Regions from separate parts of the Homo sapiens genome. Here regions 1, 2, 4 and 5 are each reported to be linked to region 3. Evidence: microRNA targets listed by miRTarBase, many of them from high-throughput screens and not tested one by one. Region 3 holds a microRNA gene; each other region holds the end of a gene's coding sequence.

Region 1 (4,000 bases), not on the chromosome of region 3:
AATTGCAGGATTGGTCTTGATTTGAGCAATGGTAAACCTCGAGACAACAAACAAGCAGGGGTGTTTGAACCAACCATAGTTAAAGTTAAGAGTTTGAAATTTGCAACAGAAGCTGCAATCACCATTCTTCGAATTGATGATCTTATTAAATTACATCCAGAAAGTAAAGATGATAAACATGGAAGTTATGAAGATGCTGTTCACTCTGGAGCCCTTAATGATTGATCTGATGTTCCTTTTATTTATAACAATGTTAAATGCAATTGTCTTGTACCTTGAGTTGAGTATTACACATTAAAGTAAAGTACAAGCTGTAAACTTGGGTTTTTGTGATGTAGGAAATGGTTTCCATCTGTACTTTGGTCCTCTGATTTCACATATTGCAACCTAGTACTTTATTAGTTTAAAAAGAAATTGAGGTTGTTCAAAGTTTAAGCAATTCATTCTCTCTGAACACACATTGCTATTCCCATCCCACCCCCAATGCACAGGGCTGCAACACCACGACTTCTGCCCATTCTCTCCAGTGTGTGTAACAGGGTCACAAGAATTCGACAGCCAGATGCTCCAAGAGGGTGGCCCAAGGCTATAGCCCCTCCTTCAATATTGACCTAACGGGGGAGAAAAGATTTAGATTGTTTATTCTTCTGTGGACACAGTTTAAAATCTTAAACTTGTCTTTTTCCTCTTAATGTATCAGCATGCTACCCTTTCAAACTCAAATTTTCATTTTAACTGCTTAGGAATAAATTTACACCTTTGTGAAAATTCATCCCTGCCTATCTTACCTCGTTCCTTTTATGCCAAGTAAGCCAATGTCTTTTTTTTTTTTTTTTTTTTTTTTTAAACCTTGGGAAGTAATGAACTCAGTCCTAGTAACTAGTATTTCTTTAACTATTACCCACATGGCCAACACCTAGAAGATACTATCTTAAAATTGGATTGTGAAATTCACTGGTAAGCTCTCAGGGTTACTTGTGCATCTTTACCTTCTCTGGGTTTAATCCAAGTTCTTTAACTATTGCAGCAGAGACAGCTGCAAAGGCTTCATTGATTTCAAATATGTCAACATCTTCCAGTGACCAACCTGCTTTTGTAACCTAGAGGAAAGATTCATAGAAAAGAGGTCTAAACTTGGGTGGAAAGGCTAAAGTTAAACCATTCTTTGTCAACATAAATATATGCTGCATGATACTGGTAACTGCTACTTTGGTTTGTTCTTAGGTTAATACAGTGACATTCTCACACATTTTTGCCTTAGTGACATCCATTCCATCCAAAAGGTTAAGGGTGTGATCTAAAAGATCCCTTAGAAATTCTAAATTGTCTTAAAATTTTGAACCAGTAGCATCTGTTATGTGTACCTAAGGCTAATGTAACAGAATCAGTTCCCCTAGAAAGCATGTGATCCAAATGCTCTCAGTGGCTGGGGGTAGTGGCTCACACCTGAAATCTCAACACTTGGGGAGCCTAAGGCAAGAGGATCAATTGAACTCAGGAGTTCAAAACCAGCCTGGGCGACATAGACCTTGTCTCTACGAAATGAAGAAGGCGTGGTGCACCTGTAGTTCGAGGTAATGGGAGGCTAAGGCAGGAGGAATATTTGAGCCTAGGAGTTTTGAGGCTGCAGTGAGCTATGATGGTGCCACTGCACTCCAGCCTGGACAACAGAGCAAGACCTTATCTCAAAAATAGAAATAAATGCTCTTGGTTACTCTTCTGGTAGGGAAAGACTAGAGCTAACTACATGAATAAGCTCACTTAAGGCTAACAGGAAGACAAATTTCATAAAAGGGAATAGGGTTATACTCACAGCTTGCTTTATGGCTGGAATTGGTCCTATTCCCATAATGGAAGGCTCCACACCCACTTGGGACCAGGAAACTATCCGTGCTAAAGGTGTAAGCCCACGTTTATCAGCTTCTGACTTCTTCATAAGAACGACAGCTGCAGCACCATCATTTATTCCTGTAAAATATGAGTGACTTAATTTCTACCATGCTTATTAACCTCAGTTACATATCTGTGGCTTCTTTACCACCTGAAGACATGAGTTAAATGATTTTACCTGTTGGCTAAGGCATTTACTATAATTCAACAGACTTTACATAGAAATTATGTTTGGCAATATATTGACCACAAAACTTTCCAACTAGAGAAAGTGGTAGGATTACAGTAGTCGGGGCTGGGCGTGGTGGCTCACGCCTGTAATCCCAGCACTTTGGGAGGTGGAGGAGGGTGAATCACCTGAGGTCAGGAGTTTGAGACCAGCCTGACCAATAGGGTGAAAGCCATCTCTACTTAAAATAGAAAAATCAGCCGGTGTGGTGGTGTGCGCCTGTAGTCCCAGCCACTCAGGAGGCTGAGACAGGAGAATTGCTTGAACCTGGGAGGCGGAGATTGCAGTGAGCCAAGATTGCACCACTGCACTCCAGCCTGGGCGACAGAGTGAGGCTCCGTCTCAAAAAGAAAAAAAAAGGATTACAGCAGTTGGGGAGGGGAGATCTCTGACAGGAAATGGAAGAATAAGCCTGGGCTTCACAAGGAGGTATTGGGAGTTTCTGGTACTGGAAAAATACAAAGGTAGATAAACTGAAGTTCCCTAATTTACTTCTTCATTTGTATGTCTAGTTGGGATGTCAAGAAACCAAATTAATTCTTTCAGTATAGGTTAAGTCAATGATCAAATACAGAGAAATGACATGTTTCCTTAAACTGTTTTAAGAATAATTTTGTACATAAATATTGAGTTGGGTGTGGTGGCTCATGCCTGTAGTCCCCCAGCTACTTGGGAGGTTAAGGCAGGGGGCTCACTTGAGCCCAGGAGTTTGAGGCTGCAAGTGAGCAATGATCATATTGCTGCACACGAACCTGGCTGGCAGAGTGAGTCCCTGTCCCAAAAAATAGTACTTTTGTATATAAATAAAGAGAAAAATATTCACTCGGTAGACATTATAGAACATAGTATTCCCCCAGATGTCCTTCAGAAAATCTAACCTGAAGCATTGGCTGGGGTGACTGTTCCCGTTCCATCAGTAAGAAAGTAAGGCTTTAGCTTGGACATGGCTTCTATGTTGCTCCCATGGCGAGGAAACTCATCTGTTTTAACTTCAATAAGACCTAAGCAAAGGAAAACCAATTACTCAAGATTAGTCCAGAGACAGAAGTAAGTGTGCTGGGAATGGTGGGTTCTCTGCCATTAAACATGAGGATTCATATTTAGCAGAAAAGTTTTAATATGTGACCACTTTGATGACAACAGGAGGAAAGTACACACAAGAATTATTGTACATGAAAACAATTTATGAGTATGTCCTTATGAGACACCTGTGTTTTCCAAATCCATAGGCCTTCCTGAGGAAAGTAGCTACCAGGGACCTGTTTGTGCCAAATTCTGCTATAGTTTGGGTCATAGTACTTGGCTGGTTACGAGTGAGTGGATCAGGCAGTCTCAAAGCCAATCGTGCACTGCTGGCAGGACATAAGAGATATCAGTTATCAATAAGGGAGCTTGACGGGAGCATTCTGTATTAGAAAATAGCGAGTGACCCCAAAAGATCCACCCTTTAGAAATGTGAAATGGAGATCACACAGAAACAGCGAGAAGTAATGGGTGTCCACTTCTGAGGAGGTTGAGCCTATACAGGAAACAGGTCAGCTGGTGCCTCCTAACAACCATGAGCCAGTGCTCCAGCTTCTCATGAAACCTGCTGTGTGTGCACAGTGGTCATGGACGCTCTGGAACCAAGAGTGCTTGAGTGCTGACATAGGTCCCATGTTACCGTGTCCTGTAAACCCAGCATACCCCCTCCCCACATTCATGTATCCAGGACATATATTTGCAACCTGAAAAACATAACTAAGATATAATTTCTAAAGATTCCTATGTATTACTCTTTTAGATGTTACTCTTACCTATAAATAGGTTGATGTTTAAACCACTATGATATACTCACCTTTTCTAGTTGACACCAAAACTGGTACAATCTCTTTGTCAAAA
Region 2 (4,000 bases), not on the chromosome of region 3:
CTATCTCAGTCGTCACACGGTGAAGCCTCGAGCCCTCTCCACATTTCTATTTGGATCCATTCGAGGTGCAGCCCCCGTGGCTGTGGAACCCGGGGCAGCAGTGCGCTCACTTCTCTCACCCGGCCTCCTGCCCCATCTGCTGCCTGCGCTGGGGTTCAAAAACAAGACTGTCCTTAAGAAGCGCTGCAAGGACTGTTACCTGGTGAAGAGGCGGGGTCGGTGGTACGTCTACTGTAAAACCCATCCGAGGCACAAGCAGAGACAGATGTAGACCCTTTCCCTCCAGAGTCACGCACATACTCGTCATCGCATCACTTGGGAGAATGGTTGTATCTTATGGAAGGAATTATCACATCAAGGAGTCAGGGGAAAGTGACTGGAAGCAAACGCCCTAAAAGTTACCCATCACGTTTCAGTGTAAATGAGTAACTATAGAAGACATTGCGTTATCTTATTTCCAAAACGTTCCAACTAAAAAACATTTTCCTATTAAAATAGACCTTCCGAATAGCTTAGTTCATTCATTCTCTCTGAACTCAGGCTGCAGGTAGGGATTGGATGGTGCTGGGTGAGGCTGGGCAGGACTTCTCTATGTCTCCGTGAGGCTGCTTAGAGCCTCTTGGAAGAAGTGGTGTTTTGGTCACCCGTCGCTGTACAAGCCAAGGCTTGGTGGCTTAAATCAGCCATTTTACATTGTTCACGATTTTGTGAGGCATTTGGGATGGGCTCAGCTGAGCAGTTTGTCTGATCTGTGTGGCATTAACTGCAGGACCCACTTCCAAGATGGCACCGGCTCTCCTGTCTGGGGTCTCAGTGCTCCTCAGGCTGTACGTAGCACCTCCTCAGGCAGGGCCCACAGCGTGGCTTGCACTGCCCCACAGTGAGCTTCCCGAGAGTGTCCCGAGAGACCCAAGCAGATGCTACGAGGCTTCCTATGACCCAGCCTCAGAAATTCCAGCGTGTCATTTCTACCGCACTCTTTCAGTCCCTAGGGTGAGCCCAGATTCAGGGGGAGGCAAGGAGCTCCCCTTGCTAGAGGATGACCACACCTACAACTGGTAAGGACTTGGAGGGATGGAGTGGGCTGGTCCTTCCCTGGTCATCGGGATTCATAGTTGAGTGAGCCCCATGCCTTGGGGGAGCACTGTCATCAACATGAATTTGGGGGTGGGGAGCACAGTCCAACCCAGAGCAGATGCTGAGATGCGACAGCCTTCTCACGGCTCCTTTCCTCCTGGCCAGGGACACCTCCCCTTCTCCCAGAAAGGAGTTTTGTGAGACAGGAGACCACGCAAGAAGCCTAGCGCGGGGGGAGCGCCCTCCTGCCCAGATCAGCAGCAGGGGCGCAGCAGGGTCACCCAGAAAGGCCTGGTGGGGCGGCAGAGGGGGCAGCATGGCCACATGAGGGCCAAAGCTCCTCCCCAGCACCCACATCACTTCTCCAGGGGGAGCAGACGCCGGTGTGTGTTGCTGTGAACTCTGTGCTGTGCCCATTCACCCTCACAAAGGGCCTCTGCAAGCAGCTTGACATGGGCATTGCAGCCCGCAGGCGTCTGGCCAGTTGAAGAAGGTGGAGAGCGTTATTACCTGAAAGAAAAGGGAACCAGCTCTGCGAAGAGCCTGCTTCTGTTGTGCAGTGAAAGGGAAGCCCTCTCTCGAGCCGTTCTTAAGTGAGGAGTTGATGCACTAGAGTGTCTGTCACGGGGGCCCCTGAAAGTGTCAGAAGCCAGACCCCACTAGGAGACCTGTTATGCACTGGGGCTGAGAATAGTTCAGCAAGAGAGAGGACTTTCCTCAAGCGTGTGTGTGTGCGTGCATGTGTGTATATGGCACGTGTGTGTGCATGCATGAGTGTGTCCACATATATACGCGTGTGTCTGCATACACTACCTGAACAGGCAGTGTGGGAGGGTGTGATGGGTCAGTGGCACCGCTGTAGTGACCCTCAGCAGACTGCAACCTTCAGCCAGCGTGTGCTGTCCATGTCTCTGATCTCTCACGGGGTGGGTGATGTGGTTTTGAGAACCACAGGGTCCTGACAGCCCCCAGCATGGCTTGCTGATGCTTCCCGAGCACCCTTAGCCTGGGCCCTGGGGTGAGGAGGAGAAGAGGTGCTGCTGCCCTCACACCCTTACTGCGTAGGAGCGTGTGAAACAGGCTGGTGAGTGCTGTGTGTGAAGCATGCCAGGCCCTCCAAGGCAAGAGGTCAAGGATGCTCCCTGCAGGGGATGACGGCCAAGCTGAAACTTTGGTTGCAGGGGAGGCAACCCGAGGAGGGGCCTGAGGCTGGGCACGGGCAGGGGGCATCCAAGCCATCCTGCGTGGATGAAAACTGGGTGTGTTTCTGCAGTACGCAGTGCTCTGGGGGGAGACCTGACCACCGGCTGCATGCCTGCAGTTGGGTGTGATGTGCTTACGTGCCATGCAAACGTGGGCACACAGTCGTGGCCTCTTGACAATTGCACAGACAAATCCCCAGCAAGGCAGCGTGGCACAGGAGCCAACAGGAAGGAATAAAGAAGGCATGGATTTCATGGCACGCTTGATCCAACGGGGAAAGGTGGGATTCTGCTAATTTTGCTTGAGTAGAAATCTAAGGCTGATAATTACCTATCCAGGCTTCAGTCCAGAATAAGTGATTAATAAAAGAATTCTGCAGAACCAGGCCAGGAATCCTGGGCATCGGCACTGTGGACATCTGGGGCTGGGTTGTGCTCCGGGCCCATCCTGGGCACTGCCGGGTGTTCAGCATCCCTGGGCTCCACCACAAGATGTCGGGAGCACCCCACACACAAGCAGGGCCAACCAAAAGTGCCCCAGACACTGTCAAGCACTCCCTGGGGGGCAACACGTTTCCCCATCAATGAACCAGGGTTGCTGCCGCCTGCCATGACGAGGGCTGGGATGCAGGTGCACCACTGGGAGGTGATCTCGGAAGTCAGGATGGGGAGTGGGGATGTGAGTCAGGGAGGGAGAGGAGCTTCCAGGGCACAGAACCAGAGCGACACCGGGTGCCACCTTGTTGTGTCCCCTGAGCTCTGGCGGAATGGACCTTGGTGTCCTGTAGGGGATGAGGACTGGGGGGGGGGGGGCGTTTATCCACAGATGCTCGTCACTGGTGGTTGAGGGTGACCGTGTGGGGACTTAAATCCCAGGCACTTCCAAGCCACCCAAAGGTGGGCTGAGCAGGTCCTCATGGGCACAGAGAAAGGCGACTGCAGAGAGAGGAGGAGTGGGCACGTGGGCCGGCAGGGTCATCCTGTCAGGAGCTGTCCCTGCACTCGCGAGACCTACGGGTGGCCTGGGGCCCTGCCAGATGCCAGCCCTGTCTTGCCAATGTCCTCCCTGTCTCCTGAAGGTGTGGTGCCAATGAACTGAAAGACGGATTGAAAATACTGTGAGAAGTTAGAAGTGCTATTCAGGTGTACGTTATTAGGTTATTCTCTGAGGGACTTTTAAAGTAAGATCAACTGGGGACAGCAGTGCAAGTGAAGGAAGAGTAAATGATGCCCAGATGGAGAGAAGAACATAGGAGCTGTCTATGCATTTCCAGAAGGAGGCGAGGTGCTCTGTGGGACGCTGTCATGTTTGTATCCACCTAGGAGGCTACTCACGGACCAGGTCTAACTGATGGACCACCCACCTGGCAGCGTCGCTGTCACTCACCCAGGAGAGTGGGAGGCGAGACCGGCACTCCCAGGGTCCAGGTCTCCTTCCTGTGCCGGACCGGTGGGGGCTGGGGCTTCCCTGCCTCCCTGCGAGTGGGCATGGCTGTGAGACCTGCTGTGGCCTATGAGGCTGGCTGAGGGTCACCAGCAGGGTCTCCGAGCAGAGGTGATGTGCTGCTTTGTGGCGGAAGCACTCCACGCGGTGCATTCGTTCTTCCCCCAGCGATGGTGGAAGTGATCGGGAGGTGGAAGAGCCGGTGGAAGAGTGTTGATCCTGTCCATTCCTCAGTGTCCAGCCTCCGGCAAGAAGCTTCCATGGAAGCCTCGTGTTT
Region 3 (4,152 bases):
ACCATGCCCAGCTAATTTTTTTGTATTTTTAGTAGAGACGGGGTTTCACCATGTTGGCCAGGATGGTCTTGATCTTTTCACCTCATGATCTGCCCACCTTGGCCTCCCAAAGTGCTGGGATTACAGGCGTGAGCCACCATGCCTGGCCTACATGCATCATTTTTTAAAACAGTGATTAATGGAGTCCCCTTTCCCAATTTTTTAATACAAAGGTGTGGATGGGAGATTTGCAGCAAAGATAGGAAAGCAAAGATATAACCCACAATCTTTACTCTTGCCAACAGCTCTTACCTTCTTTCCCACCAAAATTTTCCTTTGATAAAATGTCTTGCTGAGAGTTAGGCTAACTCACCAACCAGCTTTAATTTTGGTTGACAGGGTGCCGTAGAAGACCTTTGCTAGCCAGACTGTGAGCTTCTTGCAGACAGGAATTATGTCCTGCATCACTGTGTGCTCAGAACCTCAGGAAGAACAAACTGATGTAGGCACCAGGAAATAGGTGCTTTTATTACATTCTCATTTTATGCCTTAGAAGCACTGCAAATGGTAGGTATTCTTATTTCTGTTTTAAACAATGAGAAAACTGAGGCTTAAGGAGGTGTAAAAAATACTTTCTTTTAAAAAAAATACACCTCTCCCCCACCATCATAAAAACCCCAACTTTGGCCATAGAGTTCATTGGTGGTGGAGCACTGCAAACATTAGCTGTCCCATGTGGCTTTGACTCTGACACAATTGGTCCTCTTGCTTCAGGGAACTGGATACCATCCATCCCTCCCATGGGTTGGCCTAGGCTCTGTTACTTCAGAGTTTTCTTGACGAGTTTCAAGGTAACCAGGTCATCCTGTTCTACATATTTTTCTGGGATTGAGGTCAAGGAGCAGCATGATCCTCTCTTAAATGGGTCAGAGGAGGAGGACTCCTGTGGCTCCCTGAAAGGTCAAGCCCCTTCATGCTAACTACACCGTCTTCCCTTCTCTTCCAGCTTATGTCCTGGGCTGGGCTCTGGACAGGGAGCAGAGGCAGATGTGCGCATGTGTTCTGGAGGACTTTTATATGTCCGATGGTGTGTTAGGCACTATGTGGAGTGGAGGCAGAGGGAACTCCAGAAAAGATAAATTATCTTATGGTGGAGACAAAAGGTAGTATTGGCAACAAACATGACCTCTGGAATCAGATAGTTTTGGGTTCCAGGCCTGACTCTTTGACTCACTTATTAGTTGTGCGACCTTAGGCAATTTATTTAACCTTTCTGTAGCTCAGTTTCCTTGTATGCAAACAGGAGGAAAATAATAATCTCTTACATAATAGGATTGCTATGAAGAATATATGAACTAATATGTGTAAGACATTGACTGTAGTGCCAGGCACCTAGTAAGCACTCAGTAAGGAATAACTACTGCCATTATTGTTGTTACTAACAACAGTATGAGACTAATAAGTGATTAGTGTATAAGTACCAACAAATACCAATGGAGTTCAGAAAAAGAATGCTTAATTTTTGTGACTTATCCAGGAAATCTCTAGAGGAGACAGAAGAAGTGGAATGAAATATTCCAGGTGGAGCAAATATGAAAGTGGGAGGCTGAACTGAACTGGAGTGGGGAACAAAAAGAAGAAACAAACGCAACATCTGGCACCCTTGAGCTCTACCACCAGCTCACCTGTTGTCACTACCAATATGTCCAGTCCTTTATGGCTCTCCATTTTGGAGTGCCCTGAATTACTGGCTGCAGTTTTGACTTGGCCAGCTAGTTGGCCAGCTGCTCTGACTGAGCTTGAGGGTGTCTGTGCCTTGGTGGAGTTGACACGGGTCCTAACTCTGCAACTTGGTTTGTAGGTTCAAAGCCTAATTTTTATCAGCTTACCCAGGGCTGTTGGTTTCTAGTGGATTGGGTCACACTCCCCAACATTACAAAACACTTCTTAATAAATCACCAGGCTGATAAGTCGATTGATGATGAGAGAGAGACCTTTATAGAGATGAGAACACTTGTGTGTATCAGCCCTTTCTGATATCAAGGTACCTGAAGCCAAATTAAACAGGGACTGTTTTATAACCTAAAATCAGAACCTAATGGAGTTGAAAAGTCTCATGAGCGAGACCATATAGGCTTTGGTAGTCCATGGAAAACTGTACCTTTTTGCATGTCTGTCATAGCTTTGTAGTGTGACCAGAATGTGTGTCCTGTTCTCTCTCCACTGCTGGAGAAACATCAGTAACAATTTTTCTCTTGGATGTTCCTGTTTTCAATTCCATGCAAATGCTGTTTGTGTGCTATGGCCATGCTATTCTCTTGAATTTCTTTTTTCTTGACAAGATTTTTGAGTTGCCTACTTCTCAGCGACAACATAGTGATTCTCTCATTGAGTGTTCTTTTTGGCTTTGTTCTCAAACACTAGGAATGTTTCCAAGCAGGGCCGCCACGAATGGCTATGCACTGCACAACCCTAGGAGAGGGTGCCATTCACATAGACTATAATTGAATGGCGCCACTAGGGTTGTGCAGTGCACAACCTACACAACTGTACTCGGCGGCCCTGGCATAATGTAATGTCAGTACTTTCTTCATCAAGGTACCAGTTTGGGATTGTCCTCAGGGTAAGGGGGCTGAAGCAGTGAGCTGCTGCTGTGACCAGGAAAGGAAGAAAGAAGTAAAGTTGTGGCTTTGGGAGAATTATCTTCTCTGTAAATGAGAGCCATCATATAGGAGAACTACGTACCTTCGTTCTTTCAGTAAATAGTTTTTTAAGTGCCTACTATGTGAGGGTTGAAGAACAGGGAGGGGTTTGCATAGGAGGGAGCATTTGAACTGGGCTTTGTGAAAGAAGTAGAATATTAACATGTGAAGATGAGTCAGGAGGAGAGAATCTCAGGGGGAAGGAATAGCGAGAAGAAAGACAGATGGGAGACCACAAGGGATATATGGGTAATGGTGCATAATTCATCTTGGTTGGATAGAAAAGCATGTAAAAGGGAGTAGTGAGCAATGATGCTGGTCGGGGGTCAAATGATGATGCAGGAGGGGAGGGAGTTGAATGCCCAATTAAGGAATTTGGACTTTTATTTATCAAGCAATAAGGAGCTATCCAAAGTTTGTTTTTTAAACAGCTTTATTGGGTTATAATCATATACCATATAATTCATTCATTTAAAGTGTACAATTGAATGTTTTTAGTATATTCACATATATGTGCAACCACCACCACAGTCAAATTTAGAACATTTTCATCATCCAAAAAATAACTCCATACGATTTAGCTCACCCCCCTCCCTACCTTTCCCCCACTCACCAGCCCTAAGCAATTGTTAATCTACTTTCTGTTTCTATAGATTTTATCTATTCTGGACATTTCATAGAAATTGAGTAATTATAATATGTGACCTTTTTCCACTGGCTTCTTTCACTTAGTATGTTTTCGAGATTCATCTGTGTTTAGCATGTATCAGTACTTCACTTATTTTTATGGCCAATTAATATTCCATTTTAAGGATATGCCACATTTTATGTATCCATTTGTCTGTTGGTGAGCATTTGGGTTGTTTCTGCCTTTTGGCTATTACAGATAATACTTCTGTGAACATCTGTAAGTTTTCAGGTGCACATAGGTTTTTATTTCCCTTGGACATAGGTTTTCATTTCCCCCAGGTATAGGAGTGGAATTGCTGAGTCATATGATAACTCTATGTTTAACCTCTCAAGGAGCTGCCAGACTGTTTCTCTAAAATGGCAGCATCATTTTACATCCCTACCGACAGTATAAAAGGGTTCCAATTTCTCCACATCCTCATGCACACTTGTGTTTGCCTTTTATATTTTGGCCATGCTAGTGGGTATGAAGTGTCATCTCATTGTGGATTTGATTTGCATTTCCCTGATGACTAATGATGTTGAACATCTTTTCATGTGCATGTTGAGTACCCGTGTGTTTTCTTTGGAGAGATGTCTGTTCAAGGTTATTTATCTTTTTATTGTTGAGTTTTTTTAATACTTTAGCTATTTTTAATGTATATATTTAAGGTTTTCAACTTAATGATTATATATATATATGGAAATCACCACAATCAAGATAACACATGCATTACATCATAGAGTTATCATTTATGTGTGTATGCGTGTGTGTGTGTGTTGGAAATACTTAGGATCTATT
Region 4 (4,000 bases), not on the chromosome of region 3:
AAACTACAGAGGGGGAAAAGTGGACAGAGGCACCTTTTAAAAAATCTCAGTAGTAGAAATAGAAATAAAAGTTTAATAAATTTAGAAGTCACAAGCAGCCCTCATTTGAGTCAATGAATGAGTAAGACATGAAGCACAAACCTGCCAGGAGTGTTCAGGAAATAGCAGCAACTAAATGTCCAGATGTTCAGTGATGGGCACGTAGTAACAACCATTCCTTTTCTCTCTCTCATCTCATGTTTTACAGTCATTTGCCTTGATGACTTTCCTGTTCTGGGCACATATATGTCATAACTTTGGCTACCTGTTCCCTTTTACTCGTTCTACTCCATTTTACTAATATTAAGAATAATCATATTGACTTTGTGGTATGCCTGGTCTTGAAATCCATCCCCATCACTGAACTTGATGGTATGGCTGGGAACCACGGTTTCAGTAGAGGACACTAATTATTGCATCCCAGCATAGTGTTACTCTTCTGAAATAGTGTTCATTCTCATGCTTATTTCTTGATTTGCCTTTATCTTTTTGTTCAAGCGTCTCGCTCGAACCGGGATCATAGTGACCACGAGTGAGGCTGTTCTGCTTCAGCTGGTAGCTGATAAGGACCATCCAAAATTCAAGGAAATTCAGAATCTAATTAAGGCGAGTGCTCCAGAGTCGGGTCTGCTTTCCAAAGTATAGGACATTTGAAGAACTGGTATGCTACTCACTGGTGAAGGACAGTCAGGTGAAGGACTGTAAGCCCACACAAGCTCTTCTTATCTCTACTAGAATTAAAATGTTAAGTCAAAAACGGCTCCTTTTTTGCGCCTCCTAGTGAAACTTAACCAGCTAGACCATTTGAGTACCAGCATTTAGTTACAAACGTCAAAGGCTTCCGGTGCTGCTTACCTTCCTTTTTTGTTAATGTGCTTTTATTTATTAAAAAAAATTACAATGAAGATGCCTGTTTTGTCTCTACTGTGTACTCTGATCGTATCTTTCCAAAGTGCAGACTCTTGTGAAGTTTTCTTAAATTGTTCACTTTAAAGAAAATGACGTACCAACAATGATTTGGCTTTTATATTACTGTAAGATGTTATAATGTTAATGTGGATGTAGTGCTTTTACTTTACAGATTGATTGGAATAAGATTATTGCATATGAATTTACCCACAGGACTCTGAATCATGTTACCCACTCCCCTCACAATGTTGTCCACTTAGTGAGTTGCATTGATCTATCCGTACCAAATGATGTTGAATAATTACATATCTTTCTTGACTATACTGATTTCTTATTTTGGTCACTATTACTAAATCTCTGTTAATATTCTCTCTTTTAACTGAAAAGGGATGGGATAGAAGGGTTTGCAATGCCATATTATTGGTGGAGGGCTGTTTTAACATCTTTGAAGTATGGCTTGCTGAATATCTTTACCAACATCTTGAATATATATTCTAGTGTCCACAAGATTTAGCAAAAAGATAAAGCTTGGGTGGAATATCATTTTAAAATGTTCATGTTCTGTTCTATATTTTCTTCACCTACTCTCCAAATATTGTAATGCAAAAAGTCTCAGTAATGATTTGGTAGTATTAATTTTGTGGTCATTGTTTCTCTTCGATAAATTTATTTTCATTAAATACTTGTTAGAGGGTTTTGAAATGTTTTTCAAATATGTGAAATGTGAAACTGCTGTCTTTTATATTAAAGTAATTAAAGAAAATGTATTGTGATTGAAATTATTTTGTCCTCCACAAGATGGCTCTATGAGTATTCTTCCAGGGATTCTAATATTTATTTAAGGTAATAAAATCTTGACATTTATAATCTTTCAACTCATGGGAGTTTTCAAAGAAGGAAAATCCTTTGTACGTAGGGGCAGATGGATTTTACTAAAGGGTGAAAGGCCTTCTTCATTAAGAGCAGATTTTTTTTATTTTTCCTATTGGCAGTGGTAACAAATAGCAACCTGGTGTGTTTAAATACTTTTTTCCAACCATTTGTGTGTCAAAAAAGAAGAATCAAAGATTTCTGCACCTTTAAAAAGTTTTTATTAAATTTAACCTAGTGCTTCTCAAACTTTAATATGAATGCAAATTATTTGAGGATCTTGTTAAAATGCTGATGCTGACTCAGTAGGTCTGTTGTGCAGCCTGAGGTGACATTTTGCATTTCCAAGGTGACATTTCGCATTTCCAAAAATTGGGCATTTTCCACCAGTGCTGTTCAGAAAGGACCATATTTGAAATAGCGAGAATTTAACTCCAGACAACTGTTTTCCTCCACTGCACCCAAACCTTTCAGGGCTCAGTGAAATACCAGTACAGTGAAGCCTTTTCACAGGTGAAACTAATTCTGTGACGTCAGCTTCGTTTCCCCTGCCTTCCATAACAAACTATTATACCACAAACAGTGTCGTAAAACAACGGCACAAGTGTATTCTCGCAGTTCTGTAGGTTAGAATTCTGAAATGAGTCTTAGTGGGCTAAGATCAAGGTATCAGCAGGGCCGTGTTCTTTTCCGGAGGCTGTACGGAAGAAACTGTTTCCTTGCTGCTCTGTGCTTCTAGCATTCACCCATGTTTTTTTTTTGTTTTTTTTTTTTTTGGTTTTTTTTTTGGCTTTTTTGACCCCATTTCTACCTCTTCTAAGCCAATGAAGGTGTATCTGTTTTTTCTTATGTCACATCTGTCTGACTCACTCTTCTGTCTTTCTCATTCTGACTTAAGAGCTCATGTGCTTTAAGGTCATCTGATCAGAACCTTATTCCATCTGCAACCTAAGTTTTCTTTTGCTGTGTAACAACATATTCACAGGTTCCAGGGTTTACAACATTAACATCTCTGGTGGCCACTCTGTATAACACAGACACCGCCATGTGATTTAGTATTTTATTTCATTTTGTCATTTGTCATATTTCCATCTTTCCTGCTATATTATAAGCTCTCTGGAAGCAGAGACCGTGAATTATATATAGTCATTCTGGAAACATTTTGAAAACCCACTAAGTTCTAAACATTGTGCTTTGTGCTTAGGATAAAAAGATGCCCCTAGGAAACTTATGCTATGGCACAAAATCAGATACAATTCTCAGTAAATGTGAATTGAATTAAATTATATCAGAGGTCCAGGAATGTCAATATAATACTAAAGTTCAGAATAACTGTGAATTCTGCCTTCTCTCTTTTTTTGTACATCATGCCAAGCAGGTCACTGACAAGGCTTTATTATTACAAGAAAACCAAATTGATTATAATACATTATGCCTTAAAATTGGAAGCATCTGTAACTTTGTAGGATAATGAAATTCTTTCAACTGATGTAAATAGAGAACTTGACTACATAAGCAAAAGAGTAGTCATTGTGTTGAATTGCAAGGGTATGGGAGCAGGAGCAAGAGGATTCACTTATTGAAATGCTAAAACATCTGTAGAAACTTATTCTAAAATTAAAAGTGATAACTTATTCCAATCAGGAAACAAAATATCCTGTTACATCCGTTAAAGTAATACATTTCTCAACGTGGAATATATTCCCTCTCTAAAAGTTGATGTTTGTGTAAATATGACTTTAGAACTGGGTGGAACTATAAAGATCATGATCTCAAAGGTCCATTTCAGCTCCCAAATTCTAAAATGGTTTTATTTTACAGACACAGTTAGTGAGGCCCAGAAATAAATGACTTTTCCAAAGTTGCACAGCAGGATGAGAACTGAGGTTACTTAATTCCCTGTCCTGTTCTTTCTTACATTAAGTGATAATGCTAAGGATTATCAAAGAGAGAGGAACAATAAATATATACAAAAGAGTATGCATTTTATAATTTCTGTAACAATAATTTTGATTGGCAAAGCTAATGGGATATACTCTTGCTACTAATTAATAACTTTCCCTGGCTGTAACCTTAAATCTAGTCTTATTTCTTCCTTGATGATTTTCTCTAAAGCACATTTCCTAACTAATTTGGGGAAATGGCTAAAATATATGAAAATTAGTCATTTTCATTATTAATT
Region 5 (4,000 bases), not on the chromosome of region 3:
TAAAAACTACCACAAATAAAAATGAAAAGTAAATTAAAAACTAGACAAGTGTATGAAGCAAAAAATAAATTATCTCTAGTATATAACGAGTCCTGACCAAGTCATCAAATACGGAAGCACTCCAACAGAAAGCTGGACAATTTACATAAATAATCAAAAAATGCAAATACCTATGAAAAGTTTATGACCTCACCAGTAATCCAATATGCAAATTATAACGATATTCCTGTGGGGAGGGGGCAGGGCACAAACTAGCGATTCATAATAGGCCTGTTCATACATTGGTGTATACAGAAAAACAGTCCAACCATTCTGCTAGTTGTCCAGATAAGTTAGGCAATATTTATTTATTTATTTATTTATTTATTTATTTATTGAGACGGAGTCTTGCTGTTGCCCAGACAGGAGTGCAGTGGCGTGATCTTGGCTCACTGCAACCTCCAAGGTTCAAGTGATTCTCCTGCCTCAGTCTCCCAAGTAGCTGGGACTACAGGTGCACGCCGCCATGCCTGGCTAATTTTTGTATTTTTAGTAGAGACAGTGTTTCACCATATTGGCCAGGATGGTCTCAATCTCTTGACCTCGTGATCCACCTGCCTTGGCCTCCCAAAATGCTGGGATTACAGGCATGAGCCACCGCGCCCGGTGGCAATATTTATTAAAAGCCTCAAAAATGTGCTCTCTGGCCCAGACAGTTCAAGAATCTATCCAAGAAATGAGATAAGTGTATGAAAGCCTGTGTAATACATCATGCCATTGCCTTAATAAGAGCTTATATTTCTAAGTCTTCTGAATTTTGCACGTACCGTGCATTTATAATTTGAGAAAAACAACCACCCCTGACAAATCTTCTGGAAGAAAGTGCTATTGGATGTAGGGAAAAACAATTAAAAAAAAAATGCTGAAAAACAGTATTCCAAAAATGTTAATTTGGCTGTTAATTCTACCCCACTCCCAATTTAAAACTAGAAGCAAAACTATGAACCCCACAAAATGGCAAGTGTGCAATTTGTACACTTTCATTGCATATTTAAATTAAAAAAGCATACTCAACCAATCTTTTCCTCCTTTTACTCAGGGCAGAGCAATTTGGACAACAAATGAACAGAGATTTTTGGAAACATGTAGGTTATTAAATAATTTGTTTATTGTACGGCATTTACAAAGAAAACAGACAATGCCCTCAGTAGAAAGAATAAAAATGTATTTAGGGCTTTATTTTTAACTGACAGCAAATAGAAATCCTTTAGTGAGATCGTGGCAATTTGACAGTATTATAATTAAGCTCAATAAAGGTACATGGGGTACCTGGAAGATCAAGATCTACAGCTGCCTATTTCCACATCTTTCAATCCATCTGGCTCCTTAAATAGGGGAAAAAGCCCTTATTTGGTGGAGAAGCATTTCCAAAATGAAGTTACAGGTTCTATTAAAACTTACTGTCACATCAACTGTTAAAATAGGGCCTTTTGTGTTTTGTTATTTCACCTTAATATCACCAGAATTCCTGTAATTCCACAATTGTGATTTTACTATGTAGAAGATAATTCAGTTCTAGTCTATTGCTTTAGATGTAAAAACAGCTGAAAACCCAAAGTGGATTAGAATTGCTGAAGGATTTCCCTGCCGTTGTTTGATACAATCTATTCTCTTGATTCTTGATAGGTGCATAGAAAGCCTAACTTAAAATTCTTTCTACAGGAACATGTCTGATTTCAGGAGTACCCAATGAAGGATCCGATGAATGGCTGGCCAGTTACTCAGAGTAATATGTTTATGAGTTAAATGGATTGCATAACGGCACCACTTTTCCTTTGTCACTGTGGTGGATAAATGACAAAGTAGATTCCAATCTCCTGTATAGAAAGGTGGTTACCCAATAGCCTCACTGGTGGCTTGCTAGCAGAGCCTCAAGTTGCACCTCTGTGGCTTTCTGTAAATTCGAGTCCTACAGCCACTTCGAGAACGCTGCAATCCCCAAGGCCCACTTGGTCCATGCTGAAGAAGCGGCTGTGACCCCAATCCTGCCTCTCTTTTGCTCTTCAGTATTACTTACTGGAGGAATATGTAATATTCTAGGTCAAGTCTAGGAGAGGCTCATCCTAAAAAAAAAATTGCAAAGTCTTTTCTCAATTAAAACAAAAAAGCCTCAAGTACATCTCAATCATGTCAAAATTATGGTTAAAAATTGACATTATGTAGGGAAATAGCAGCAGAGAATGGCTAATCTTAAAAAATAACGAACCAACCAACCAAAAAACAAAACAAAACAAGACCAACAAAAAAAAGTGCCATCCCACCCCTCCCCTTGGTTCTTTCATTTGGGGTTATATTAAAGACTCGAGCCTCTGAGAAAATCAGAAAGGCAAAGCCATAGAGGAAAACTGCTTCAAGGCCAGAATTTTGGGTAAGGTAAAGAAAAAGCTGTACATGAAAGCAGGGGACTGTTTGGAAAAGAATCAGAATCTCAAGATCTATTTTTCTTAAATGGGAAAGCTCTGAAACCCAGATCTCCGTTCTACCATCATCCTGATCCTTTAGTTATGGGGCAATAAACTCAAGTGCAATGAGTAAAGTGCCAGCCATGGATACAAAAACAAAAAATAAAACAAAACAACCAACCAAAATAACTCTGGTCTTAGGGTAATAGAAGACATACAGGAAAGGACTGTTTATAGAACACCTGAGGTTCTCAAGAAATTACTATTCAATGGTTCTGTTTTTGCTTACATTAAAAATCAGACTGAAGATTCAAAGATCTTAACTATTAAAGGATGAAAGGAATTTGACAGTGCTTTGAACAGTGATAAAATGGTACCCAAATTTGGTGTTCATATAGCTATTTAAAAAAGACAGTAGCTTAAAAGTTGCAGGAAAAAATGTGAACACAGAGAACAACAGAAACAGTCCAGGAAGATGATGCAGCCCGGACACAGCAAGTTTAATGTCTCTGCTGTACATAGAATTAAGACCCTTTCCCCCTCCTCATCCTTATGCTGGCAATAGGATATGCACTAGAAAATTTGACTCTTAGAGTCAATGAATAAAAGGATGGGCTCATACACCTTCATAGCTCTTTTCAAAAAGGATGCTTATAATTTAAAGGATGTCCTAATGGGAAGGAAAGGTACAGGGCAAGAGGCTGTTTCACATTTTAGTCCATTAGTCTTTGGCAGAGCCCAACCAAGGCCAAATTCACCTAGGATGCCCAATGGCTGTGGGGATCTCCACAGGGTCAAGTAAGCAAACCCAAATGAACATGTTGGATTAAAAAAAAAACAAGATCTAGAAACTCTTGAAGGAAGAGCTTCACCCTGAAAAGGGAAGAGGAAAATGCTTGAAGGGGAAGGGCGGAGGGTCAGTGTGTGATCTCTGCTGTGGTGCTGGGCAGGGGCTTAGGAGTTAAGCCAAGGGTGCCGGAGACACTCGGCGGCAGTGGCTCTCTTCTCAGGGATCAGCTCCAACATGGGCAGTAAGAAATCTGTGAAGCCAGCTGCCTCTTCCTGCGACCACTCATACTTCTCCACTAGAACCTCAAAAAGGCCCCAAGGTTTCAGCTTCGTGATATGTTTCAGGTCACCTGCAGTGAAGACAGTACAGAAAAAGCCACTGATCAACACAGACAAATGACAAGGTACTCTTGTGGAAACCCACAAACTAACCCATGTAGTCTATGAGGAATCAAATTTTGCAATCAGAATCTAATCCTTCATTCACAAAGCATTTCTTTTCTGACATATGCCTCAGAAAGAAGTGCCTCTATTCTTCATACGGCTCCAAAAATTTAAGGTAATTTGTTTTCTCCCCTATTCTAGGATTTTTTTGGTCCCAGTCAAACTGGGTGTGACAATCAAGAAGTAGGTATTTACTACTAAAATAAACATGAAATGCCTATGTCTTCAACATGGTCTTATATGGTGTGCAGAGACACTCTAGTACCACATACCGAGAATAATTTGCTTATACTCTTTTTTTGTGTATGTGCTCAATAGTTTAGTAA

What was found. Region 3 holds the annotated microRNA hsa-miR-652-3p (AAUGGCGCCACUAGGGUUGUG, at 2,487-2,507, shown strand). A microRNA usually pairs through its seed, bases 2 to 8, with sites in the 3' UTR of a target mRNA and lowers its output. Matches are read on the target gene's strand: a 7mer-m8 pairs with bases 2 to 8, a 7mer-A1 pairs with bases 2 to 7 and ends in A, and an 8mer does both.
Region 1: miRTarBase lists TCP1 as a target of hsa-miR-652-3p. The part of its 3' UTR that is shown has no 7-base or 8-base seed match.
Region 2: miRTarBase lists MRPL36 as a target of hsa-miR-652-3p. The part of its 3' UTR that is shown has no 7-base or 8-base seed match.
Region 4: miRTarBase lists ISOC1 as a target of hsa-miR-652-3p. The part of its 3' UTR that is shown has no 7-base or 8-base seed match.
Region 5: miRTarBase lists SRPK1 as a target of hsa-miR-652-3p. The part of its 3' UTR that is shown has no 7-base or 8-base seed match.

Annotation. Positions count from the first base shown.
Region 1 is chr6:159,775,270-159,779,269 of GRCh38, reverse strand. It overlaps TCP1 (t-complex 1), which reads left to right. Exons shown (of 12, transcript NM_030752.3): 12 at 9-772. The coding sequence ends at 225. It overlaps ACAT2 (acetyl-CoA acetyltransferase 2), which reads right to left. Exons shown (of 9, transcript NM_005891.3): 5 at 3,957-4,000; 6 at 2,998-3,120; 7 at 1,814-1,968; 8 at 990-1,100; 9 at 158-611. The coding sequence ends at 441. Among named protein-coding and RNA genes, the nearest start is that of SNORA20, 3.1 kb to the left of the region's middle.
Region 2 is chr5:1,794,895-1,798,894 of GRCh38, reverse strand. It overlaps MRPL36 (mitochondrial ribosomal protein L36), which reads left to right. Exons shown (of 2, transcript NM_032479.4): 2 at 1-510. The coding sequence ends at 271. Among named protein-coding and RNA genes, the nearest start is that of MRPL36, 2.9 kb to the left of the region's middle.
Region 3 is chrX:110,052,903-110,057,054 of GRCh38, forward strand. MIR652 (microRNA 652) reads left to right here and starts at 2,427; the gene lies at 2,427-2,524. The region is part of intron 2 of TMEM164 (transmembrane protein 164); the gene reads left to right.
Region 4 is chr5:129,112,318-129,116,317 of GRCh38, forward strand. ISOC1 (isochorismatase domain containing 1) reads left to right here. Exons shown (of 5, transcript NM_016048.2): 5 at 538-1,711. The coding sequence ends at 684. Among named protein-coding and RNA genes, the nearest start is that of MIR4633, 17 kb to the left of the region's middle.
Region 5 is chr6:35,831,909-35,835,908 of GRCh38, forward strand. It overlaps SRPK1 (SRSF protein kinase 1), which reads right to left. Exons shown (of 16, transcript NM_003137.5): 16 at 1,058-3,580. The coding sequence ends at 3,396. Among named protein-coding and RNA genes, the nearest start is that of LHFPL5, 29 kb to the left of the region's middle.